Linked DNA regions of Homo sapiens. The protein of the gene in region 4 purifies or fractionates together with the protein of the main gene of each other region. This does not show direct contact. Each region holds a gene or a part of one and is shown on either strand. Other genes may lie near its edges. The genes, in order: RPL21, GNL3, ZC3H15, DNAJC2, DNMT1, SRP54 and PPP6R1.

Region 1 (4,079 bases), on a different chromosome or scaffold from region 4:
GTATTTGAATTCCTACACTAGATTAAATCCAACTTTTCTATCTTCTGTAGTGTTATTTTCCCAATTTTATGTTTACCTTGATGTCTACAATATCACCTTTCTTATAGATTCGCATATATGTGGCCAAAGGAACAACTCCTACAAAAATAAATTTGGTATAGTGAGTATTAAGGCTAAAAATCTAGAGTAAAAGAAATGCAATTTTACTAGCTTTTAACACATATATCATTTTTGATGGTTACATGCTTATTATCTTCCCAATGGACAATTTCTCCTGACAGCACAATCAGCCTACTAAATCACAACCTCTCTCCAAAGTTTAATCTTGCATCAATACTTAGTCACAAAATCACCATATAATTTTGGTAATTTATTTACCTTATCACGAAATAAGCTGGGTAGACGCTAGTTATTTAATTCTATTGATACACATTCTATGAACTACAACACATGTTGAACACAACAGAACACAAATGTGTGCCATGCTTCTCTCAAGGAAGGTAAACCTACTTACCATGTTTTCTAAAAGGCCTAGAGAACATATATCGGGTGCCTCTCCTCTTTCCCTTTGTGTTCGTCATTTTGGCGAATTACTGAAACCAGAAAGCAGAACAGTCAAATACGACTGAAAACTGGCATTTGCCCCAAACCCCTGTAATTTCAAATGTTCACATTTCAGTAGCGAAGTGAGAACTGCAAACTGAAAGCTGGATCACCAAGCAGTTAGTTCTGTTGAAAGGTTAAAAAATCATTATTTTAGCAAGTAAGGTCTTTTGGCAAAACTGCCCAAGTTCTATAACATCAAAACTCTTAAGGAGCAGAACTTGATACGAGAATCCAAACTAGTACCCTTTCTCTATGAGAATATAAAAACACAACAGGACTTCTACCACACTCTATCTGTAGAACCCAATTTAGAATGCCAAGGGCATGTAATTACTAACTAGAAGATAATTTAGTGGAGAACACAATAAAACAGCCTTACATTTTTATGTGAATTAAACCTTTCTTGTCAACCAAATTTTCCGTGATGGTGTATCTCAAACATCATCTATTTAACTATCAGAAATCTCAAGCCACTTCACATTTCTGATTATTTACTACGAACGTATATAGGGTAGAAGAGAGGGGAACCCAGGCTTTATAATCATTGACCTAAATTTGACATAGGCTCTGCCACTTACTAGCTGGGACACCCACATTTCATCTCTCATCTTCATTTGTAAAATAGGGGTGAACACTTTCGTAGCTGAGGTAATGTCTACAAAGAACTCAGCAATGCTTGGCCCGTGTAAAGTGCTCAGTAGTAACCGGCAGCTAATTTATCATTATCTAAGAATTCACCTACAGGCATTTAGAAATTAACCTTTCCTTTGTTTCCCAAAAAGGCCAAAACAATAGTTTTGATAGCTCTTTAGTCATTATAGGGCAGAAATGCCATTCCTGGCCATTACTCCTACCATAAGGTAAAATACAGCAGTCAGGCTTGACGTGTTGACAATATTCTAACACAATTTGGTTTCTAAGTTTACCAACAATCCTTTAAGAATGGCTCCCAAAGTACCATTTTTATAAAAATTGTATAGCAAGAAGACATGTTTCACCTAACTCACCAAAGTCAAACCATTGTTACAATGGATGAACCCTTTAAATGCCAGGTACTCTGTTCCAATCCCCAAAGCCTTTAGATGTGTATAAAGTTCCAAAAACTTGTGCTAAGTTAGTACACAAAGGGTGATACTGTGTAGATTCAAGTCACTTTGTGGAATCACCAAGTGGCATAATCAGTTAACTCATTCCTGATTCCAGAGCCCATAATCCTCCACTAGATCCATCTTTCTGAGTTTGGAATCCATTTTAAGCATGGACCCCATACACTTAAAACTGAAGGCACTTTTCAAAACGATGCTTTACAGTTTGTAAGAGTATTAAAATCATGGCAACTAGGATCCACCATAAAGAGCAACCTGCAGTTTGCTCGACTCTGTTGACGTCCACAAACTAGACAAAATGATGAACTATGGCTAAATGTTTCCCTTCACTCAAAGCATGCTGCCCTAGAATTCGCAAAACAGTATCTCCTCTTGGTGCAAATATTGGTGTTGCAACCTCAAAACACTTTCCCTTCGTCCGATCACCATGTGGGGTCAAAATTTTAAAAACAGTCGGAAATCGTCTTATGCATTAACTAAGGGCAGTGAGGGTTCATCACCCAGGACGACTCCGGGACCCACTCTCCGACCGAGAGCCCGGGTTTTCACACCTGTAGGCTTCACAGAAGATTAAAGCCGACGCCTGACTTTAAACCCATTCCTACTACCCCTTAAGTCCTCACCCAACATCATCGCAAGATTTGGAATAAAAAAGCCACACTGAAAGGAGTTAGAAAGGCATCAGGCCACGCGGCCCCCACACAGCCTATGTGAGAGGGGCCACCCACAGTACCGGAGATGCAGCCACGGGAACATAAAACGAAGTCTTTTAAAGATTAACTCGAGTCGCCTCACCCCAAGCGACTCAGTCTCGTCTTTCTCGCAAATGTCCCCCCGCAGGGCCGCAACATCGCAGTCCGGTTCTCAGCCCACGGCCCAGACCCGACCCGGCGCACGCTGCTCCCCGTCTGGCAGAACATGGTTTAACCCGCCCATGCCAATGGACCTCAAACAGGTTAGAGAGTCTCCCCACGGTCCCAATGAACGACCTCTGAGGCCACAAGGTCGCGGTTCAAGTCTGTCGAACACCTAGCGCCCGGGAGCCACGCGTAGGCCCTACCTGGAAGATGGCGGTTCCGGCCGAAAGGAAAGAGGCGGGGCCGCGGCGCGCGCCTTACAAGGGCCTGTGGGCTGCCCACGGCGCTGCCTGAGGGAAACGCCAACCGTAAGCGACTTCTTTCTAGGGAAGAAGATCGTCTCTGAGAACACAGAAAGTCTGTGAGGATATTTTCCCCTCTTGCGAAAGAAAGGCAACCGGCCAACACAAGCTGACACTTGCATCGTGTCAGACAGCCCGGAAAGGGGCCTTCAAGGGCGATCAAGAGGACGCCGTCGTCCCGAGCGTGCTTACGCCATCCTTTGCGTCACCGCCTTCGCCGGAAGCTGCCTTGTATCCGCGTCTCCGCAGGGAAAACTGCGGCTGGCGGTGCGGGAAGTGCTATTAGTAGTTGTTTATTTGTTTGTTTGCAGAAATAATTGCTTGGGTACGAAGGTCAAACGAGAATGAAGCAAGTATATTATCTAGTTTGTATGTCTTTAAATAGTTTCTCCTCCACACGTCTAAACATACGCACCTGCTAGTAGGTGCGCAAATGTTAAAACCTCTTTGGGAAAGCAATGTGGCAAAATCTAGTAAAAGTTTTCAATTACTAAACCCCAGCACTCTGCTCCTACCTATATGTCTTGTAGAAACTTTGGTAAGTGAACAAGGATGTACGTAACAGCGCTGTGGGTAGAAGCAAAAAATTAGAAACGTCCATCAATAACAGAATAAATACCTTATGGGATGTTAGGATGTAGTATTATACGCCAATAAAAGAAGACTGAACTCAGAAATGTGATGAGGCAAAAAGAGAAAGATGTAGAAAAATAAATAGTATGACAATTCATATACATTCAACTCTAAAACTTGTAAAACAATGCTATATATTGCTTAGTTATGCATACATATGTAGTTAAAGAAGTCAAGAAATACAAGAGAATGAAAATCAAGTTGAGAAAAGCAGTCATATCTGGTAAGGAGGGGACAATAAAGGGAGGCTTTAACTGTATTGACCATTATTAAACCGGGTGTTAAATATATGGGTGGCCATTGTTTTATTCACTACACCTTTAAAAATAGATATTATTTTCTTAATGTAGTTTATTTAAATTGAGATAATGCCATATACCCAGCATCCAGTTTCCCCTATTATTAACATCTCATGCTAATATGGTACATTTGTTGCAATTAATGAACCAATATTTTACACTGTTATTAACTAAGGTTCACATTTTATTCAGATTTCCTTCGGTTTTACCTAATACCCTTTTTCTGTTCCAGGATTCCATCCAGAATACCACATTACATTTAGTTATGATGTCTCC
Region 2 (2,983 bases), on a different chromosome or scaffold from region 4:
AAGCTTTTGGTGAAAGCAGAGATTTAAGCCAGTGCTAGAACTGATTGGAGTGGGACAGCTGCCCACAATTTAGTTTGAAAGACAAGTTCAGCAGATAGATTGAGAGAGAGGAAAGCTCCCTCAGAGGAAGTGATGTTTGAACCTGGCCTTGAGAAATTAATAGAAATTTGCCAGATAGAAGTCTGCCACCACACCTGGCTAGTTTTTGTATTTTTAATAGAGATGGGGTTTCACTGTTGGCCAGGCTAGCCTCAAACTCCTGGCCTTAAGTCATCCACCCGCCTAGGCCTCACAAAGTGTTGGGATTACACTTGTGTTGGGTGGCATGAGCCACTGTGCCTGGCCAACTTTTAGATTTTTTTTTTTTGGGAGATGGAGTCTGTCTCCCAGGCTGGAGTACAGTGGTGCTATCTTGGCTCACTGCAACCTCAGCCTCCTGAGTAGCTGGGATCAAAGGCACCCGGCTAATTTTTGTATTTTTAGTAGAGACAGGGCTTTCATCATGTTGGCCAGGCTGGTCTCAAACTCCTGACCTCAGGTGATCCACCCACCTCGGCCTCCCAAAGTGCTGGGATTACAGGCGTGAGCCACCGCGCCCAGCCAGAAGGTGGCATATTTATAGCAAAGGAAATAGCATGTGTTTTGGTTGATGTAAATATATAAGCTATAACATGTAGTGTTCTCTTTAGAACAGTCGGGTATGCTGTTACAGTTTTAGATAAATGTGAAGCAAATGATGATAAACTGGATCTGACTGACTGTGCTGAGTCTGTTCAATCCAACCCTGAGCTTCATGTTCTGTCTCTTAACCTCCAAATAGACCAATGCCCCCATCAATTCCATCGCTCTTCTTTCAGGAGCATGCAAGTTGTCCCCTTGGACAAACAGATCACAATCATAGATAGTCCGAGCTTCATCGTATCTCCACTTAATTCCTCCTCTGCGCTTGCTCTGCGAAGTCCAGCAAGTATTGAAGTAGTAAAACCGATGGAGGCTGCCAGTGCCATCCTTTCCCAGGCTGATGCTCGACAGGTAAAAGGACCCCTTCTCATGAGCTCCTTGGAGCCATCTTCTTTCATCATAAGCATTTTGAGTAGAAAAATCTTGGAAGTGTTTTAAAGTACTGGCATGTCAGATGAAGGACAGCTCCTTTGTTTGGTTTTTTTTTTAAGGTAGTACTGAAATATACTGTCCCAGGCTACAGGAATTCTCTGGAATTTTTTACTGTGCTTGCTCAGAGAAGAGGTATGCACCAAAAAGGTGGAATCCCAAATGTTGAAGGTGCTGCCAAACTGCTGTGGTCTGAGTGGACAGGGTAAGCTTTCTTTTCTGTTGGCATTTTGGTGACCACTAGAATAAACCTTCTTTTGACACATCTTATTTTTAATATCAGTGCCTCATTAGCTTACTATTGCCATCCCCCTACATCTTGGACTCCTCCTCCATATTTTAATGAGAGTATTGTGGTAGACATGAAAAGCGGCTTCAATCTGGAAGAACTGGAAAAGAACAATGCACAGAGCATAAGAGGTGAGAATTGTGTGTCGCTGCTGTCTTCATCAGCTGACAGGCCAGTGGAGCTCTTACCTGTTTACATGGGCTTGCTTTCTTTCCCAGCCATCAAGGGCCCTCATTTGGCCAATAGCATCCTTTTCCAGTCTTCCGGTCTGACAAATGGAATAATAGAAGAAAAGGACATACATGAAGAATTGCCAAAACGGAAAGAAAGGAAGCAGGAGGAGAGGGAGGATGACAAAGACAGTGACCAGGAAACTGTTGATGAAGAAGTTGATGTAAGTGTGTCCTCCATGAGTTAAAACTGAAGTGAGTTTTCTAGCATTATAATACATAATGGAAGGAACTGAAGATAGGAAATATTTGAGGCTTGTGATCCATTAGCCTTAATTTTGCACATCCCGTTATATGTACCTCCAAAGAGTTAATTTTTCAGGTACATAACTACTTGGATTAAATGAGCAGACAAGGGCTACTAATCCAGCACTATTTTTCTTTGTCACACAGGAAAACAGCTCAGGCATGTTTGCTGCAGAAGAGACAGGGGAGGCACTGTCTGAGGAGACTACAGCAGGTGAGGCAGGCAAAAGGGGTTCTAACGAAGCAGCATGGTATAGAATCACTTTTACTTTTTGAAAATCTCTTTATTTTCCTGCAATATAGGTGAACAGTCTACAAGGTCTTTTATCTTGGATAAAATCATTGAAGAGGATGATGCTTATGACTTCAGTACAGATTATGTGTAACAGAACAATGGCTTTTTATGATTTTTTTTTTAACATTTTAAGCAGACTGCTAAACTGTTCTCTGTATAAGTTATGGTATGCATGAGCTGTGTAAATTTTGTGAATATGTATTATATTAAAACCAGGCAACTTGGAATCCCTAAATTCTGTAAAAAGACAATTCATCTCATTGTGAGTGGAAGTAGTTATCTGGAATAAAAAAAGAAGATACCTATTGAAAAATGTAAGTTTTATTTACAGATCAGGCCACAGGTTACAAAATTAAAACCAACAGCAGTTTTGAATTATCTGTACCAGCTAGCTGAACTAGCCATATCAGTTCTTCTTTCCAGTCATTCAGCATTGTAGTAAGAAAACACTTGGTAAGGCAGATGGAGACATATTTATAGTCTATAGTCTGTCTGGGAAGCTGACTGCCAGACAGGGCAGTTTGTCATCTTTACCTAGCTGACACATCTTTTTCCATGGCTTGCTACCGATAGGCATTGAAGCCTAGCAACTGTTACTTCCCACGCATGCTATCTTCCAGGACTTCCTGAGAAATGCTTGCTTACAGTTCAAATTCTGTTTCACTTTATGTTTGAGATCTCGGTATATCTTCGGATTAGGTTGAATTTGCCTGTTGGGTCTGGAATATACCATTTTTCCCAAACATCAGTATATGAAGCAGTCCTTCCCCATGGCTTCAAATGTCCATTCCAATGGAGTAACTTGGCAGCCTT
Region 3 (4,237 bases), on a different chromosome or scaffold from region 4:
GAGTAAAGAGGGGGCTGGCTGCATCCCTCCATCCTCTGACAAGAACTATGACAATTACAAAAAATAAAGATGAAAATATGTAAAAGGGGGGGAGCCCATTAACCTGCCAATATGAGCCCAAATGAAAAAAAGTGTGTCAACATACACCTGCCATTCTCGACACAATTCTTTTTAGTAGCTATCACATTTCTTCTACACACACACATACACACACAAAACATACTTGGGGTTCCTTGACATTATCTTACGTAGAAAATTACTAAGCAAATAATCAATTTGACTAAGTAGGGGGGCTTATCGTTTTCTCCCTATTCAAATTAATGAAAAAGATAAAAAAACTTTTATCTATAAAGATGATTCTTGGTTCCACAATGCTTCTTAACAGAAATAGTTTAAACAATAATCATTTTAAAAAATAACAGCTAAGCATTGTACATTTTTAAAAAATAGTATTTTCGTTTGTACAAATATCAATGGGTCCCATTCATCATTCAAGTACCTTTTCAAACAGGATCTAAGTTTGTAATGTTAGGTAATAGGCATATAGGCTGAAGCCGGACTGCCAAGATTACAATTGCTGGCTCTGTCCTTAATATAACTTTGGGCATCTTTCTTCCTTTCTCTGCTTCATCTATAAAACGAAAACAGTAACAACTCCCACCTAAGTGTCGTTGTGATAACTAAATGAAATAGTGTGTGTAATGTGCCAAGGAATTTCTGGAGCTACCAAGCACTTAAACTAAGTTCTAACTAAGTTTGGTTACTTTCACGTTATAAAGGAATTTTTAGGAATCACCTAGGCACTCTCCTAAAGTCTCAAAATAACTTAATACAGTACTTCTAAGGAGTTCAAGTGCCTCCTTATCTGGGACGCCATCTCAGATGCTCTTCAAATGAAAGGGACCCTGCAAATGAAAGTTAACTTTTTCCATTTTTTAAATAATCCTTCGCAGGAATCTGAAGCACGCGACACTCACGGGCCATTCAGCTCCGCCTCTCCAGGGAACAAGAAGGTTAACTGAGTAACGTGGTCACGGAGCAACCCCGAGTCGCTGCGGCTGCTTAGTAGTCACTCAGGATGGGGATGGTACAGGGGACCATTAACTGGCCCGGCAGGAAAAGTTTCCCGGTGAGGTGACGATGGACAAGAGTCGCCCCATCGTAAGCGAAAGTGGACTGAGAGGAAGCACAAACGCATGGACTCAACCAGCTCGCCCAGATTCACCCTCAGGCCTTTTGCCATCTGAAAAGGGCCTATCGGATGCGCGACATCACGAGTGACGCGTAGTCATTTTCCCACGTCCCGTCCCTGCCCCCTCCTAGTGGGACGCAGTGGGCGCGCACGCGCAGCTCCGCTTCCGGGAGCCGCTCCTCGCTACCCACTATGCTCTGCGACATCGACCTGTCGCAAAGGCCGCGTTTGCGGGGCCAATGAGCGACTCGCTTTCCGTGCGGTGCGGCGAGTGAGGCCCCGGTCTTCCTCCTCGTCCTGCCGCAGGGCCAGAACCCCTGACGGTATTCAGCTGCGCGTAAGTCTGGCCGGTGCCATCTGTCTCCGCAATGCCCCCCAAGAAACAGGCTCAGGCCGGGGGCAGCAAAAAGGCGGAGCAAAAAAAGAAGGAGAAGATTATCGAAGTGAGTACCCACCCCTCCCCCACTCACGCCGCGAGCCCTCCGGAAAGCCACTTCCCCGCTCCGGGCTTCCCTGGGAGCCGGCTCGCTTCCTCGGGCCACGTGTTCCTCCCTTAGGCCTGTGTGGCCCACTGCCCCTTCTCCAGCCCCTGATGACGCTAGCTCTCTCATTACTATAGTGACGCTGCTGGCGCCCCCGCACCTGGGCTTTGCCTCTCCGCCCACACGCCCGTGTTCACCCACCCATGCACCCGGGTGCGAAATGACCCCTCGGGACTGGCACAGGGTTTTATCCTTCGCTAGTCCTCTCAGAATTGAGGAGATTTTCCAAGGTTATGTGTGAAGAAATACGCTGAACGGTCTCGGGCCAGCGTCTTTCTGGAAGACCGACTCATGACGAGTCTTTGTGTTCGTTATTTCTTTACCCGTCACCCAGGGATGGTACTGTTAGTTCTTTTGAACCAACAAATTACGACTTGGTGGCTTTTTCGATCCACCTCTGAAATGTTTAAAGTCCCATAAAGAATGGAAGGACTTTCCGTCACAACCCAGGGTCTTGAACGCAGAGCTTGGTACTTACATTCTGAAGTGGATTAAATAGGATAACGCCTTAAAAGAGATTAGGTTTCAGTGTCACTAATTGTGTGAAGTCCCGTAACCCAGTTTGAGATATATGTGTGTGTGTGCGCGTGTATATATGTATACATCTATGTGTGTGTATATGTGTATATATGTGTGTGTATATATATTCGTTTAACACATTGAGCCTGTAGCCCTTTAATGGCCAAGGAACGCTATTGACGTTCTTACATGTTGTGCACTTGTTTTCCAACAACTGAATTGAGTTTCCTTAAAAGATGAACCATATTTGACATTACGTAAACATACCATACAGACCCCAACGAGGTATTTCTTCCCTCGATTTCTGCTATTAATCCTCCTCATAATTAAATAGGACCTCTTGTACTTTGGATATAATTAGAAAAAGCCATGACCATTTTACCGCATAAGGTGTAAAGTCTGCTCATTGGATTTAAGAAAATGCTTAAGAATTTTGCTATACTTGGCCAGGTTCCAACTTTGGAGGAGAACTGGTATTCTTATTGCCAATTTGTACAGTTTAAAACTGTCATGAAGTACTATAGCCAGACACTTAAAAACAAAATATTACCTTCACATCTGTGTTTTCTATTACCTTATTTGAACAATCTGGATTCGTGGCACTTAGGTAAATTTCAGGGGTTGCTGATCGGATGGCATTCACTTTTATGAAAACCAAGGACATTTTAGGGATGTCGTTTTCCTCGAGATTGGACCCTGATACGAAGTAAAACTCCCATTGAAATTAAATGTTATGTAATAATTTAGACAATTTAAATTATACTTCATGCATTGTAGAGCTTTCTCTATATCTAATTGTTTTATTTTTAATTAGTAGGACTAGTATTCTTATTTTAAGGAATTATGTGTGAAAGTTGTTTATAGTATCCATCAACTTTTAAAATGATGCATATGTTATGATTCTAGTCATCTTGTGACGAAATTATTTTTTAGCTAAAGAGAAAGCAATTTTAGTTTCAATAATGAAGGTATCTCCAAAGAAAAATGCAAAATAAGACAACTGCACTTTTTAACTAAAAATATTAACAACAACAAAGTGGTGAAATTAAGCCCGATTTTGTGTTTTCTACATTTAATATATATTATTTTTTTAATTTATTTTTTGTTGAGGTATAACTTATGTAAAATAAAATGTACAGGTTCTAGATGTATAGTTCTATGTGTTTTGAGGAATTTATTCACCCAGGTAGCTGCCACCCTAATTAAGACTTGAAACATTTCTATCACCCCACTAAATTTGTTTTGTGCCTCTTTCTATTTAATTCTTTCCACACGTGCAGCCACTAATTTTTTTGACAGGATAGATTAGTTTTTACCACTCTAGGAACTCATATAAATTATACAGTAGGTAGCCTTTGTGTCCTTCTTCTTGCTTTCACACCATGCAGTGTTTTTGAGATCCATGCATGTTGTGTATATTTCTAGTATGTTCCTTATTGCTGAAAAGTATTCTCTTGTATGGGAACCATTACAATATGTCACCTTTTGTGTTTAGTGTCTCTCTCTACTTGGAGGAACCAAAAGACGTTATAATTGACGCTTGAAAAACAAACTTAGGATTCCAAAATGGGTTAGAGGCGGTGTTTGTTAAAATCTCGGCAGCCAGAATGGATTATTTTGTGGCTAATGGAGTCATCTGTAGGGACCTTAACCTTGGGGCATACGCTGAGTTGGCATGAGAGTGTCCAATCATCTGTATACATTAGAGCTACAGGATAGGCATCATTAGGGGATCTGGGTGGTGTGTCTATTTCTCTGGGAAGGACTGGTCTTGACTACACCCTCAGTTAATTGCAGTTGTTGAGCTTCTTGCTTTTGCTGAATATGCTTGCATTTTGCTTTCTTGTGTTTTGTGCTATCATTCTTTAACCTAACCTGCAGTACCGTTGGATGTATGTCTTTGAGGCCATTTCTTTCTGAAGACTGAGGTTTGGGTATGGGTTCTTAGTGAACAAGATGTTCAAATATTCCATTTGTTTCTCAG
Region 4 (3,500 bases):
TAGCCTTGGACACTAATTGACAAGTCTGTGGGTCACTGAGTTATTCATCCACAAGGCCATTTCAAACCTCTCTTCAAACTCATATTCACCCTTTCTGCAGACAATCTCATTTATTCTCTACCAAAAGGTGAAGGCATAGCAAAATGGCCTCTTTTATTTTGAAGCTCTACCATTTACATTGTTCCTTCTAGACTACCTTCAAACATGCACAAGTAAAAAAAGAACCTTTATTTGCCCTTGTTGCTTCTGTCAGCTGCTATCTTAAGAGTCAGCTTTGGCTCATTTCTCCCCTTCAATCCCTTAGAACCAGTAAAGTCCCAATAATGCTAACCTTGAAAAATTTTTTTGATTCCCATCATCACATTCATAGTGCAGGTTCTTTTTCTTTCTTTCTTACTTTTGAGGCAGAGTCTCACTCTGTCGCCCAGGCTGGAGTGCAGTGGTGTGATTTCTGCTTACTGCAACCTCCGCCTCCTAGGTTGAAGTGATTCTCCTGCCTCAGCCTCCCAAGTAGCTGGGATTACAGATGCCTGCCACCATGCCCAGCTAATTTTTGTATTTTTAGCAGAGATGGGGTTTCATCATGTTGGCCAGGCTAGTCTCAAACTCCTGACCTCAGGGGATCTGTCTGCCTTGGCCTCCCAAAGTGCTCGGATTATAGGCATGAGCCACCACGCTCATAGTGCAGATTCTTAAATAAATAAGATTCTTGTAACTAGTTACATCTATCTGATGCACCTTATCCACAAACGTCAGATTAGTAGTACAATGTTGAACCTTCTGTTAATCAAAGATTTGCAGTAATGGAAACTAGTCAACAAGGTATTAAAAACCTGATCATTGGTTCTGCTTTTCCTAACTGATTTTGTTTCCCACTCCATTTCCCCATAACATTTTTTTTTTGTCTGTTTTTTTTGAGACAAAGTCTCGCTCTGTTGCCCAGGTTGGAGTGCACCGACATGATCATAGCTCACTGCAGCTGTGACCTCCCAGGCTCAGGTAATCCTCTAACCTCAGCCTCCTGAGAAGTTGGGACTACAGGTACACGACACCATGCCAGTTAATTTTTGTATTTTCGGTAGAGATTTTGTTTATGTTGCCCAGGCTGAACCATACTTTATACTTCTACTTCTATTTTATAGTTTGTGGTATTCTTCTGACCTTCATTTTAACTCTGTCCTTCCTTTCAGGCTGGTTCAAACTACACTGAGCCTTCCCTGGTCACTAAAACTTGTGGCCCTTCCTATCCTACACCTCATTTACTATGGGCTCTCCATCTTTTGGTCCTTAAGGTTCTTCTCAGGTTCTTCTCAGCATGTCCTTTGTGGTGCAACAGCATTAGGCATTTCTCCAAAAGAACCTAGGCATAGTGCTATATATAGTAGGTACTAATACTTGTTGAATTGAATTGAATTTCTGGGCCTGTTTTCTTATCTGTAAAATAAAAGGTATAGACTAGACAGAACAAAGATCTCTTTTGGTTCTAACTGTTATTACCCTATGAAAATACTCAAGGAATAATCAAAACAATTATTTTTTTCTAATATGATTTTGCAAAAGCTATGCTTGTGATAGATACCACAAATCAAACACTAAGTATGGTAAAAACCATAAACATCTAATCCAACTTAAATCAACAACAGCACCTTACTACATAAACAAAATGCAGACTGGGCATGGTGGCTCATGCCTATAATCCTTTGGGAGGCCAATGCGGACGGATCACTTGAGGTAAGGAGTTTGAGACCAGCCTGGCCAACACAGCGAAACCCTGTCTCTAGTAAAAATACAAAAATCAGCCGGGCATGGTGGCACACACCTGTAATCCCACCCGCACTCCAGCCTGGGTGACAGAGAGAGACTCCATCTCAAAAACAAAAACAAAAACAGGCTGGGCGTGGTGGTTCACACCTATAATCCCAGCACTTTGAGAAGCCTACATGGGCAGATCATGAGGTCAAGAATTCAAGACCAGCCTGACCAACATGGTGAAACCCTGTCTCTACCAAAAATACAAAAATTAGCCAGGTGTGGTGTTGTGCGCCTATAATCCCAGTTACTCAGGAGGCTGAGGCAGGAGAATCACTTGAACCCGGGAGGCGGAGGTTGTAGTGAGCCAAGATCGTGCCACTGCACTCCAGCCTGGGCAACAGAGCAAGACTCTGTCTCAAAACAAAAAACCAAAAAACCGAACACATAAAACAACAACAACAAAACAGTGGGAAACATAAAGAGAAATCAGATACTCCCTGCACTTGGTGACTTATATATTAGGTGAAGAAACAGGTCAAAGCAGAATTAAATGCTACATATAGGTAGGAGTGATGTGTTCCTCTATTACCTGTTTTTCCAAAGCAGCCTTTCCTACTTCTTTTGTGCATGATGTGAGTGTTTCATTCAAGCACTGTAAGCTAAAGAAAAAAAAAGAAGAAATGAAACTTTATCCTAAGCTCAAGTGAAGACTTCAATAGCAGTTCCATAGGTATACCTTGCCAGTTCAAGCCGATCACAAAGTTTTTCCACTTCTTCCATCATTTTAACCCGCTCTGCCTCATTATCAGAAAAATGATTCCAGGTCTAAAAGCACAAACACAAAAATAGTATCTACACTCAAAAATACATCCATCAACATAATTACAAAGCTGTAATCCCAGCTACTCGGGAGGCTGAGGCAGGAGAATCGCTTGAACCTGGAGGCGGAAATTGCAGCAAACTGAGATCACGCCACTGCACTCCAGCCTGGACAACAGAGCAAGACTCCATCTCAAAAAAACAGACAATGACAACTGAACAGGTATAATTTTATCTCAGTGTAAATGTTTTTAACTTTTTCTTTTCTTTGAGACGGAGTCTCACTGTCGCCCAGGCTGGAGTCCAGTGGCACGAAATCGGCTCACTGCAACCTCCACCTCCCGGGTTCAAGCTATTCTTCTGCCTCAGTCTCCTGAGTAGCTGGAATTACAGGCGCCTGCCACCACACCTGGCTAATTTTTTCTATATTTAGTAGAGACGGGGTTTCACCATTTTGGCCAGGCTGGTCTTGAACTCCTGACCTTGTGATCCACCCGCCTCAGCCTCCCAAAGTGCTGGTTACAGGTGTGAGCCACCGCGCCCGGCTGTTTTTAACTTTTTCTAAATTTCAGGTGTACATATTTCAGTTTTCAACCCTGATAGTTTTTTTCTAAACATAATCATCTTACCATTATCAAACCAAAAAACAAGTTAATATTCTAAAACTGTCCCAGCACTTTGGGAGGCCGAGGCAGGCGGATCGTGAGGTCAGGAGATCGAGACCATCCTGGCTAACACAGTGAAACCCCGTCTCTACTAAAAATCCAAAAAATTAGCCGGGCGTGGTCCCAGCTACTCGGGAGGCTGAGGCAGGAGCATGGCGTGAACCCAGGAGGCGGAGCTTGCAGTGAGCGGAGATTGCGCCACTGTACTCCAGCCTGGGCGACAGAGCAAGACTCTGTCACAAAATATATATATATACACATATA
Region 5 (3,108 bases), on a different chromosome or scaffold from region 4:
GCCATGGCCGTATGCTGTCACAGTGCCATTTCCCTCCCTGTCCCCGACGGTGACCCGGCCTGGGTGCTACTGCCCTCGCCCACCGCGCCTCTTTCCCCCAGGGCCGCGTGCTCCACCCAGAGCAGCACCGTGTGGTGAGCGTGCGGGAGTGTGCCCGCTCCCAGGGCTTCCCTGACACCTACCGGCTCTTCGGCAACATCCTGGACAAGCACCGGCAGGTCAGTGGGGCGGCGCCCGCTGGGTCTGGACAGGAAGGAGGCTTCTGTGCCTGTCACCAGGTGGGGCTGGGGCCAGCGCAGTCACTTCCGGGAGGACGCCTGCTGGCTGCCGGGTAGCCCCATCACTCTCAGTGGGAAGACGGCCCACAGGAGGGACAGTGCTGAGACATCCGAGTCAGGCTGCGTCCCTATGCTGGTTCCTTACTGTTTGTTTTTGAGGCAGAGATTGAGCCAGAAGGACAGTCCGTCGCGCTAAAGGAGCAGGCTAAAACCCATGGTGGCGACAGCTCACTCGCTGTAGGTTCAAATGAACTAGCACCTTAATTCCTACCTGCTTCTCAGGTGTCGGGTTGGCTTAACAAGTTAGTCTATGAGTTAGTCTCAGTTAAGTGTATTTTCATCATAGGGCACGCGCATTGCTTAAAAACCAGTGTCCACGGTTCTTGTGAAAACCACATTTCACCCCTCCCCCCGAATCTGGTTCTCGGGAAGCAGCCACTCTCTCTTTTTTTTTTTTTTTTTTGAGATGGAGCTTTGTTCTTTCGCCCAGGCTGGAGTGAAGTGGCGTGATCTCAGCTCACCGCAACTTCCACCCCCCTGGTTTTAAGTGATTCTCCTGCCTCAGCCTCTTGAGTAGCTGGGATTACAGTCATGTGCTACCACACCCGGCTAATTTTTGTATTTTTAGTAGAGATGGGGTTTCACCATGTTGGCCAGGCTGGTCCCGAACTCTTGACCTCAGGTGATCCGCCTGCCTCGGCCTCCCAAAGTGCTGGGATTACAGGCATGAGCCACTGCGCCGGCCAGGGAAGCAGCCACTCTTAACTGGGAGCGAAACGTGTCTAGGTGGCCCATTTGTCTTTTTTTTTTTTTTTTCTGAGACAGGGTCTCACTCTGTCCCCTAGGCTGGAGTGCAGTGACATGATCTCTGCCCACTGCAACCTCCACCTCCAGGGTTCAAGTGATTCTCCTGCCTCAGCCTCCTGAGGTGCTGGGATTACAGGCATGTGCCACCATGCCCAGCTAATTAGTTTTTGTACTTTTAGTAGAGACGGGGTTTCACCATGTTGGCGAGGCTGCTCTCGAACTCCTGGCCTCAACTAATCCACCTGCCTTGGCCTCCCAAAGTGCTGGGATTACAGGCGTGAGCCACTGCTCCCAGCCCCACGTGTCTTTGTCTCAAGTCTTTCTGAAGCTCTTCAAAGGCCCAGTGACTTGTGGCTGTGGGGCGGGATGATGGGCCAGTTGGAGGGTCCAAGGATCTTGTGCTGGAAGGGTTTTGGGCCCATGTGAGCAGGACCAGAACCCTTCCCCAAGGGGTGCAATGCCCAGGTTGTCCTCCATCTGAGCAGGGGCTGGCAGTACACCTGCCCCCGGGCCTTGGGCCTGGGTGTCCACATCAGGCATTGCCCTTCTCCCCTCCTGCAGGTGGGCAATGCCGTGCCACCGCCCCTGGCCAAAGCCATTGGCTTGGAGATCAAGCTTTGTATGTTGGCCAAAGCCCGAGAGAGTGCCTCAGGTATGGTGGGGTGGGCCAGGCTTCCTCTGGGGCCTGACTGCCCTCTGGGGGTACATGTGGGGGCAGTTGCTGGCCACCGTTTTGGGCTCTGGGACTCAGGCGGGTCACCTACCCACGTTCGTGGCCCCATCTTTCTCAAGGGGCTGCTGTGAGGATTGAGTGAGTTGCACGTGTCAAGTGCTTAGAGCAGGCGTGCTGCACACAGCAGGCCTTTGGTCAGGTTGGCTGCTGGGCTGGCCCTGGGGCCGTTTCCCTCACTCCTGCTCGGTGAATTTGGCTCAGCAGGCACCTGCCTCAGCTGCTCACTTGAGCCTCTGGGTCTAGAACCCTCTGGGGACCGTTTGAGGAGTGTTCAGTCTCCGTGAACGTTCCCTTAGCACTCTGCCACTTATTGGGTCAGCTGTTAACATCAGTACGTTAATGTTTCCTGATGGTCCATGTCTGTTACTCGCCTGTCAAGTGGCGTGACACCGGGCGTGTTCCCCAGAGTGACTTTTCCTTTTATTTCCCTTCAGCTAAAATAAAGGAGGAGGAAGCTGCTAAGGACTAGTTCTGCCCTCCCGTCACCCCTGTTTCTGGCACCAGGAATCCCCAACATGCACTGATGTTGTGTTTTTAACATGTCAATCTGTCCGTTCACATGTGTGGTACATGGTGTTTGTGGCCTTGGCTGACATGAAGCTGTTGTGTGAGGTTCGCTTATCAACTAATGATTTAGTGATCAAATTGTGCAGTACTTTGTGCATTCTGGATTTTAAAAGTTTTTTATTATGCATTATATCAAATCTACCACTGTATGAGTGGAAATTAAGACTTTATGTAGTTTTTATATGTTGTAATATTTCTTCAAATAAATCTCTCCTATAAACCACCCTGGGTGGGTATTCGTGATTTGCACGGGACTTCTGGCTGAGGTCAGACAGGAACAAGCTCTTCCATGCTGAAGGCGACCCACGTGGAGTTTGAAGCTAGCACGTTTGAAGCTAGACACTCCGTGTGTCTGTCTGTGTTTGTTCAGAACTGAGTCACGTGAGTTGATCCCCATGACATGCAAATGGAACTTGCTAGTGTAGCTTCCAGGAAAGCCTTTTAAAGGAAGTCTTGGCTGGCCTTCCCCGTGGCTGGTAGGCCTTCTTTGGTCTGAAGTGGGTTGTGATGCCTGGCAGTGGAGCAGCCATCCTGTGACCATGAGGCAGAGCTCTGTGCTGCAACTGGTGGAATAAGGAGAGAGAAGTCACCACTGAGCTGCCCTTGGAGCCCCGGCCACCCCATCCCCAAGCAAAACCTCTTTAGTTGGGTTTTTTTTCTTTCCAAAGAATTTTTTTTTTTTTTTGAGACAGTCTTGCTCTGTTGCTCAGGCTGTAGTGCAGT
Region 6 (4,009 bases), on a different chromosome or scaffold from region 4:
CATCTAAATTCTTAATCTGGAGTGCAAAACAAGACATTTATGTTTTGAAAACTTTCACTAGCTATATTGATGTGCAGCAAGGGTTCATAATCACTATATTAAGTATTTAATAACATGTCCCAAAGAAAACAACAGAATGAGAAATCTGTTCTATACCTTAGAAACATCTTTAGATACAGTGTAACAAATACATTGGAGGGAAAAAACTGAAGAGCCAGGACACTACATGCACTACCCATACTCCATAAGGCTAGTTGAGACAAGATGTGGCCTTGAACTAGAGAAAAAGAAACTAGGGTTAAGGGCTAATTCATGAAGCAGAATCTAATGACCAAATGGTTATGGCAAGTGAAGGAAAAAAGAGGCAAAAATGATTCCAATATCTCTAGTTTTTATAACCAGATGGCTAGTGATGCCATTAACCAATGAATGGAAGGCAAAAAGGGAAGGTGGTTTGAAAGTCAGAGGAGTTAATAGAGAAGAGGTCAAAGGGACTTAATGTATTATTTTTAATGTTTCACTTTTTATGAAGGATGTGTACATAGATGTTCATTTCATTATCCCTCCAACTAGCTGGGACTACAGGCGGCGCCACTAAGCCTGGCTAATTTTTGTCTCTTTTGTTGAGACAGGGAGTTTCGCCATGTTACCCAAGCTGGTCTCGAACTCTTGAGCTAAAGCAATCTGCCAGCCTCAGCCTCCCAAAGTATTGGGATTACAGGCGTGAGCCATTGCTCACAGCCCTTATAATCCTTTTAAAAATTTAACCTACTTGTATCACAAAATTCAACCAGAGGTCAAAACTCAAAAACGCACTGACAATCACTGCTTTTATACACTTTCGTATGCATGACATATGTCATAGTGAAAAAAAAAAAAAAAAGGAAGGTGAAGACAGTGCATTTGGTTTTGGACCTAATGAGTTTGCAAGTTTTAGGGGAAAGTACAGAACTATCAACTCATGAGATGGAGGCTAAAGAATAAGGTTTAGGCAGGGCATGGTGGCTCACACCTGTAATCCCAGCACTTTGGGAGGCCGAAGCAGGCGGATCACTTCAGGTCAGGAGTTCAAGACCAACCTGGCCAACATGGTGGAACCCCATCTCTACTAAAAACACAAAAATTAGCTGGGCGTGGTGGCAGGCACCTGTAATCCCAGCTACTCGGAAGGCTGAGGCAGGAGAATTGCTTGAACCTGGGAGGCGGAGGTTGCAGTGAGCCGAGATGGTGCCTCGGTACTCCAGTCTGGGCGACAGAGCAAATAAGGTTTGGAAAAGAACAAGGTTTGGAAATGAAAAGAATAAGGTTTGGACATGGTTGGCATATAGGGACAATGCCATGGAAGCAAGCGAGAAGCCTCGAGGAGAGCCTGTGGAAGACCATTTGGGTTATAGCAATGACTGAGGGCCAACTAAAAGGACGGCGTTAACCAAGACTGAAAATAACCAAAGAGATAGGAGCTTTTACTAATTCCCTTTCCCTTTCTCCATGGCACATAGGAGAAAATCAATTTTTAAAAAGCTACATTTATGGTTATCTTACTGTAATCCTGTGGCAGGTCCAGAATTTCCAAATAGATGGGGACAGAGGAGTAATCTGGAAGGAAGACTTGAAGATGCTTTTGCATAGTACTCTATATTAAGGTAGAAAATACCAGTTGGCCATATCAAAAAACTGAGAAAAAGCGATTTGAGGGAAATATTTCCCTCCCCTTTGGCACCACGATTGCTGTATTCTAGGCACTAAACCAAACCAAACCTCTTACCTAATCTCCTTTCTTCCTCAAAACAAGCCTATTAAGTAGATGAGGAAATTGAGGCTAGATTGGAATAGAAACTGGCTCAGGGTCACAAAGCACCTAAGGAGCACTTTAGCTCTCCCACAGCTTTCTACAGCTCTTTATATGCAACTAGTGTTTCTCATTACCCATCTTGATATAATGTGTATTTATGTGCGTTAGCTTCTCAATGGCAGAGTTAGTGTTATTCATTTCTGTATCCTTGTAGCCAAGAACAAGTATATATTTTGTTAAATTAAGCATGTGAAAGAATCAGGTGAGGATAGCATGAAGAAAGGCAGCAGGGGAAAGTTTCAAGAAATGGATGGTCAGCAGCGTCAAATGGTACAGAGAGAGCTATCAGTCTATCTTAAATCATCATTGGCATTCAACTGATATTCCATATTCGTTTATTGAACGTCTACTACACGCAGGACATTGTGTTAAGCACTACAAACACATAGGAAAAATAAAAGTCTCGTACAAGTAAAAGGATTTTCGGGGAAGTAGCTTCATCTAAATTCTTGCTCAGGAAAGCAAAACGAAGACTCAGGCCTGCAACTGCCTACATCTTATTTGGCTCAGGTAAATCGGAAGACAACTCAAAAGGGGCACAGCGCATCTTTAATAAAACTTCTCATGGAAGACGAGATAAAGAGCCACAGAAACTCAGTCTCGGTAACGATGGCCGGTGGCCACGGAGGCCGACTTCCCCCGGAGTCTCTCGCCTCCTGAGCAGCGCTGGGGCTGCCCCTCGCTCCCCCTCCGTAGTCTGGGGCGGGAAAAAGCAGACACTTACCGCAAAAGACACCGCTAAAGCCGTGGCCCTGAGGGGCCGGGAATTCCTTAGCGAGGCCCCACGCCGTCGGAAGAAACCCAAGAAAGCTGGGAGCAGACAGACAGGTATGACCCCACAACCCAACTTCCCGAACTAGATAAAGTAGGGTCCCAACGCCCAGCACCACGTCGTCAACTCCCACCAGCTGGAAGACCAACGGAGTGCCAGCGAACCTTCCGCCCAATGAGGAAACGTCACCACTCCGCGTAGTCCAGCCTTTCTATAGGAGAATCTACTTCCGCTTCCGGGGCACACCGCCGCGTTCCTTCTACGCGGCTCCTGAAACAGTTTAGATGTTTACTTGCTTACACTGGTTTTTGGTTTCAGTTTCCTACCGCTGAATAACTGCAGGAGTAAAGTTAGTGGTAAAATAGGAGGCTGTCTAGGGACGTGATTTCGGGGAAGAAGTCAGGCCTCGACGAGCCACCTTAAGAAAAGTGACTAGGCGGAGCACTCCCAGCTAAGAGCGGAAAGATGAGAGATAGAGGTGTGACTGAAGGCAGGGATCCCCAGGCGCACGTGAGACCTCCGTAGAGGGGCGGGGCTTAGGGCTTTGCAGACCGGAGGCTTGTTCCGCGGAGGGTGGGGCGGTCTCTGCTTGCGCATGCGCAATGCCAGCCAGTGCCTGCGCGGCTTGCTCCAGCAAGGTAAAATTTCCCACTGCGAGGCAGGCAGTGATGCTGCGGCCGCTTCGCACTGTGGCTCCTGCCGACCGCCAGGCGCTGTTACAGTGGATGCGAACTAACCGTAAGTGTAAGTGACCAGAGCTAGAGGCAGGTGGTGGGGGCAAGGATATGCTGCAGGCGCTGACTTTGAGGACTTAAGCGGGGTGAAGCCAACAGCCTTCCTTGGGATCGTTGTGCTGGTCTCTGCTGTCTTGGGGGGTAGATTGACCAGGGCTTTGAGTGCTCTAACGGAAAAGAGAGTTAGTTGCTCGCCACACGTAGACACCAATTAACAAGAGCGAGCCCTAGTATACAAGAAGAGGGATTTTATTTCTGAAGCCAGCCCGCTTCGTCTTTGGAGCAAAAAAGCGGGCATTTTATAAGGTACAAGAGGAAATGAGCAAGAGGTCTCTGCTAGCTGGTGCCTTATCTACCGGGTAGTTGAGTTGGTGCATTTCTGAGCAGAAATAAGTTGTAAAAGTGGCCAAGTGGGCATGCTTTCTGCTTACCCTTCTGAGGCGACCGCCTGGCGGTGGGAGTTGCGTCTTGGATCTCGTAGATGAATTTGCTCTGTAGAGAATGGTCTGGTGAGGGGAGTTGAGAGGTTATTTTGCAGTTCAAAAAGGGCTAAGTGGAAAGTGTAGTGGGGAGGGGAAAAGAGGGGAAAAAATAAACTATCTCTTGGAAAATGGGGGTAATCGGATACAGTACCACTTGGAATTAATTGGG
Region 7 (3,500 bases), on a different chromosome or scaffold from region 4:
CTGTCCACTGTGCAGGGAGCACAGGCAGCCACAGAGCAAGGTGCCACGGGCGGGGATTTCTCTTGGTGGACACCGAGACCCGCCTCTGAGGGGCCGGAGAGCCCCTGGGGATGGGCAGCATGCATGGTCTGTGGCCCGTATCCCTCACCTCGGCCTCCTGGGCTCCAGCAGGGTCAGCAGCACCTGGATCCCACTGACGATGACAGACTGGCTCTGCTCCCCCTCGAACATGTTGCTTAAGAGCTGCTCAATCGTCTCCTGCCTGCGGGGGCAGGGGCAGGGGTCAGGGTGAGGGGCCAGGGGCCCAGGGCTTCCCCAAGTCAGCTCCCCCCAGCCTTAGCCTTGCCCGCACACCCACTTCTCCAGGGTGGCCAGCAGTTGGTCAGGCTCTGGGCTGTCCTGGACTTGGATCATCTGCTCCCGGCTCAGGCGGATGATGTCACACAGGGACTGGGATGCGTTGGAATGTTGCTGGAACGGGGAGAGACAGGTGAGGATCCTGGTCGGGCCACCGGGCCCTCTGCAGCCTGGTGCTGGGAGCCCCTCCCATGAGCTGACCATCCAGGGAAAAATGGTCACCCAGACACAGGGACACGTGTTACGAAGGAGGAGGGCACAGAGGCACCAACTGCTGGAGGGAAGATGGTGGAGAGAACAGGAAGCCCGGAAGGCTCCCCAGGACAGGAGGCATCCACACAAGGCCCTCATGACCGCATACAGGGCTGGCAGCACCGCCCACAATGACCCAGAAGGCTCTGACTGATGAGTGAATATGCCCAAGCTGGTCTATCCACACAGGAGAGTGCTAATCAGCCAGGAAAAGGAGTGAAACTGATACATGCAACCACATGAATGAGCCACAAAAACATCATGCTAGAGAAAGAAACCACACACAGATCACGTAGTACATGATTCCAATTATATGAAATGTCCAAAGACAAATCCACAGAGACAGAATAGTCTGGTGGTTGCCGGGGGCTAAGAAGAGAAAGGGGAAGATCAGGAGGAGCTGCTAATGAACACAGGGCATCTTTTTTATTTTTTCTGGAGAAAGGGTCTCGGCTGGGTGTGATGGCACATGCCTATAATCCCAGCAGTCTGAAAGGCCGAGGTGGGGCCGGGCGCGGTGGCTCACGCCTGTAATCCCAGCACTTTGGGAGGCCGAGGCAGGTGGATCACGAGGTCAGGAGTTTGAGACCAGCCTGGCCAACATGGTGAAACCCCATCTCTACTAAAAATAAAAAAATTAGCCAGGCGCAGTGGTAGGCGCCTGTAGTCCCAGCTACTCGGGAGGCTGAGGCAGGAGAATCGCTTGAACCTGGGAGGTGGAGGCTGCAGTGAGCCGAGATCGTGCCACTGCACTCTAGACAGAGCGAGACTCCATCTCAAAAAAAAAAAAAAAAAAAGAAAGGCCAAGGTGGCAGGATCACTTGAGCCCAGGAGTTTGAGACCAGTCGGGGCAACATAGCAAAACTCTATCTCTACAAATACAAAAAAATTAGCCAAGAATGGTGGTGTGCATCTCTAGTTCCAGCTGTTCATGAGGCAGAGGCAGGAGGATTGCTTGAGCCCAGGGGGGTCAAGGCTACAGTGAGGCAAGATCACGCCACTGCACTCCAGCCTGGGCAACAGAGCAAGACACTGTCTCAAAAAAAAGACACGGCCTCTACATCACCCCAGGCTTGAGCGCAGTGGTGCCATCACAGCTCACTGCAGCCCTGAACTCCTGGGCCCAAGAGATCCTCCCGTCTCAGACTCTTGAGTAGCTAGGATTACAGGTGTGCACCACCAATGCCAGCTAATTTTTCAATTTTTTGTAGCGACAACGTCTTGCTATGTTGCCCAGGCTAGTCTCAAACTCCTGGGCTCAAGCAATCCTCCAGCCTCACCTGCCAAAGCGCTGGGATTACAGGCAGGACTTGTTTTTTGGAGTGATAAAAAATAATCTAAATTCAACAAGATGATAAACGCTTTGAATACCCTAAAAGCGCTGAATCGTAAGCTTCGGTGGGTGAGTGGTATGCTGTGCAATTTACATCTCAGTAAAGCTGCTACAAAAGAGAGAAAAGAGAGAAGCATAAGCAGAGCTGAGTCTACCCAACGGGCAGCTGCCAGGGCTTGGCAGTGTGGCCCTGGGCCATGCCTCAGGGTCCTCACAGGGACAGGCCCCAGCCTGGGTGAGCCCAGAGCCATCTCTGCTCTGTAAGCCTGTGCGCCTCTGAGGCAGAAGTTGGCATTGGGAAGGACATGTTGCTCCCAGTGGCCTCGGATATCTGAGGCTCTTGACAAACACCCACTCTACACTAGGCCCTGTGCTGGGCACCAGGACAGAGATGGAGACCCAAGCTGGAGAAACACATGGACATGGGGTCCCCCAGAGCTAAAGGGGAGGATGTGAGGGCGCTTGAAAGCAAGGCTGCTGGACGGACACTTAGAAGGACAGCAAGGGGTTCAATCAGGCAGGAGACAGGGAAAAAGCTGCCAGGCCCAGCAATAGCACAGGCCAGGGTGGGCAGGGACGGATGTGGGGCCAGCGCTTGGACAGGCGATGAGGAGGGCCCCTCCCTGCAAGGCATTATGTGCCAAGTTCCTGGGTCATGAAAAAAACCTTTCCAGCACTTTCGGAGGCCACAGTGGGAGAATCACTTGAGTCAAGTTTCTTTCCTTTTCTCAAAGGGCATGGATACACCTGGTTCTCAATGCTCTCTTTTCTCACCAATTTCTTTTCTTTCTTTTTTTTTTTTTGAGACAGGGTCTCACTGTGTCACCCAGGCTGGAGTGCAGTGGTGTGATCATGACTCACTATAGCCTTGACCTCCCGGCTCAAGCAATCCTCCTACCTGAGCTTCCCAAGTAGCTGGGACTACAGGTGTGCAACACCACACTCAGCTAAGTTTTTACGTAGAGACGGGGTGTTACTATGTTGCCCAAGCTGGTCTCAAACTCATGGGCTCAAGTAATCCTCCCACCTCGCCCTCCCAAAGTGCTGGAATTACAGGCGTGAGCCACTGCGTCCAGCCCCAATTCCTCTTTTAAAAGTGGGGAAGTGGGCATGGGGAAGGAACTCTAAGGGGAATCCGCAGGGGCATCGGCAGCACTCACATTCTCATCCTTCGACGGGTGGATCTGCTCAATCAGCCGCTGGACGATCTTCTCCTCGTTGAGCCACTGAGGGTGAGAAGGCGAGGGATGCATCGCTGTCCACCACGCCCAGCCCCCCACCCCCAGAGGAGCCGGCCCTGCTCACATTGACAACATCCTGCCTCAGCTGAGGCCGCTCCACACAGGTGAGCAGGCGCAGCAGGAGGTCCATGATGGCCGAGGTGCCAATGTGCTGCAGCAGCAGGTCCACGAAGTCATCCTTCTTCCGAAGAAAGGACACGAGCTGGGGGCACACGGGCTGCGTCATGCACAGGGCCTGGCCCAGCCACCACCCCTCAACCCACGGTGGCGCCAGGGTGGGGGCCAGGGCACCTGGTCTGTCTTGCGGTTGATGAGGA

What was found.
Region 1: the proteins of DNAJC2 (region 4) and RPL21 purify together in Homo sapiens (affinity purification with mass spectrometry; 2 studies listed by BioGRID and IntAct, with this or other methods). This does not show direct contact.
Region 2: the proteins of DNAJC2 (region 4) and GNL3 purify together in Homo sapiens (affinity purification with mass spectrometry; 2 studies listed by BioGRID and IntAct, with this or other methods). This does not show direct contact.
Region 3: the proteins of DNAJC2 (region 4) and ZC3H15 purify together in Homo sapiens (affinity purification with mass spectrometry; 2 studies listed by BioGRID and IntAct, with this or other methods). This does not show direct contact.
Region 5: the proteins of DNAJC2 (region 4) and DNMT1 fractionate together in Homo sapiens (co-fractionation; one large-scale study listed by BioGRID). This does not show direct contact.
Region 6: the proteins of DNAJC2 (region 4) and SRP54 purify together in Homo sapiens (affinity purification with mass spectrometry; one large-scale study listed by BioGRID and IntAct). This does not show direct contact.
Region 7: the proteins of DNAJC2 (region 4) and PPP6R1 purify together in Homo sapiens (affinity purification with mass spectrometry, with the first as the bait; one large-scale study listed by BioGRID). This does not show direct contact.

The regions. Positions count from the first base shown.
Region 1 is NC_000013.11:27,250,279-27,254,357, reverse strand, and holds the start of RPL21 (large ribosomal subunit protein eL21), read right to left. Parts: upstream 2,801-4,079; 5' UTR 2,773-2,800; intron 594-2,772; 5' UTR 582-593; coding exon 515-581; intron 139-514; coding exon 77-138; intron 1-76.
Region 2 is NC_000003.12:52,692,015-52,694,997, forward strand, and holds the end of GNL3 (guanine nucleotide-binding protein-like 3), read left to right. Parts: intron 1-721; exon of another isoform or gene 722-798; intron 799-857; coding exon 858-1,032; intron 1,033-1,172; coding exon 1,173-1,315; intron 1,316-1,393; coding exon 1,394-1,530; intron 1,531-1,617; coding exon 1,618-1,793; intron 1,794-2,022; coding exon 2,023-2,089; intron 2,090-2,178; coding exon 2,179-2,261; 3' UTR 2,262-2,483; downstream 2,484-2,983. Other genes in the region: GLT8D1 (glycosyltransferase 8 domain-containing protein 1), read right to left, coding at 2,831-2,983. UniProt on the Homo sapiens protein: May be required to maintain the proliferative capacity of stem cells. Stabilizes MDM2 by preventing its ubiquitination, and hence proteasomal degradation.
Region 3 is NC_000002.12:186,484,823-186,489,059, forward strand, and holds the start of ZC3H15 (zinc finger CCCH domain-containing protein 15), read left to right. Parts: upstream 1-1,437; 5' UTR 1,438-1,560; coding exon 1,561-1,635; intron 1,636-4,237. UniProt on the Homo sapiens protein: Protects DRG1 from proteolytic degradation. Stimulates DRG1 GTPase activity likely by increasing the affinity for the potassium ions.
Region 4 is NC_000007.14:103,317,268-103,320,767, forward strand, and holds part of DNAJC2 (dnaJ homolog subfamily C member 2), read right to left. Parts: intron 2,578-3,500; coding exon 2,489-2,577; intron 2,412-2,488; coding exon 2,342-2,411; intron 1-2,341. UniProt on the Homo sapiens protein: Acts both as a chaperone in the cytosol and as a chromatin regulator in the nucleus.
Region 5 is NC_000019.10:10,132,846-10,135,953, reverse strand, and holds the end of DNMT1 (DNA (cytosine-5)-methyltransferase 1), read left to right. Parts: intron 1-101; coding exon 102-218; intron 219-1,646; coding exon 1,647-1,737; intron 1,738-2,252; coding exon 2,253-2,287; 3' UTR 2,288-2,608; downstream 2,609-3,108. UniProt on the Homo sapiens protein: Methylates CpG residues. Preferentially methylates hemimethylated DNA. Associates with DNA replication sites in S phase maintaining the methylation pattern in the newly synthesized strand, that is essential for epigenetic inheritance.
Region 6 is NC_000014.9:34,981,783-34,985,791, reverse strand, and holds the start of SRP54 (signal recognition particle subunit SRP54), read right to left. Parts: upstream 2,801-4,009; 5' UTR 2,577-2,800; intron 1-2,576. UniProt on the Homo sapiens protein: Component of the signal recognition particle (SRP) complex, a ribonucleoprotein complex that mediates the cotranslational targeting of secretory and membrane proteins to the endoplasmic reticulum (ER).
Region 7 is NC_000019.10:55,242,018-55,245,517, forward strand, and holds part of PPP6R1 (serine/threonine-protein phosphatase 6 regulatory subunit 1), read right to left. Parts: coding exon 3,475-3,500; intron 3,386-3,474; coding exon 3,248-3,385; intron 3,234-3,247; exon of another isoform or gene 3,169-3,233; coding exon 3,103-3,168; intron 472-3,102; coding exon 359-471; intron 263-358; coding exon 149-262; intron 1-148. UniProt on the Homo sapiens protein: Regulatory subunit of protein phosphatase 6 (PP6). May function as a scaffolding PP6 subunit. Involved in the PP6-mediated dephosphorylation of NFKBIE opposing its degradation in response to TNF-alpha.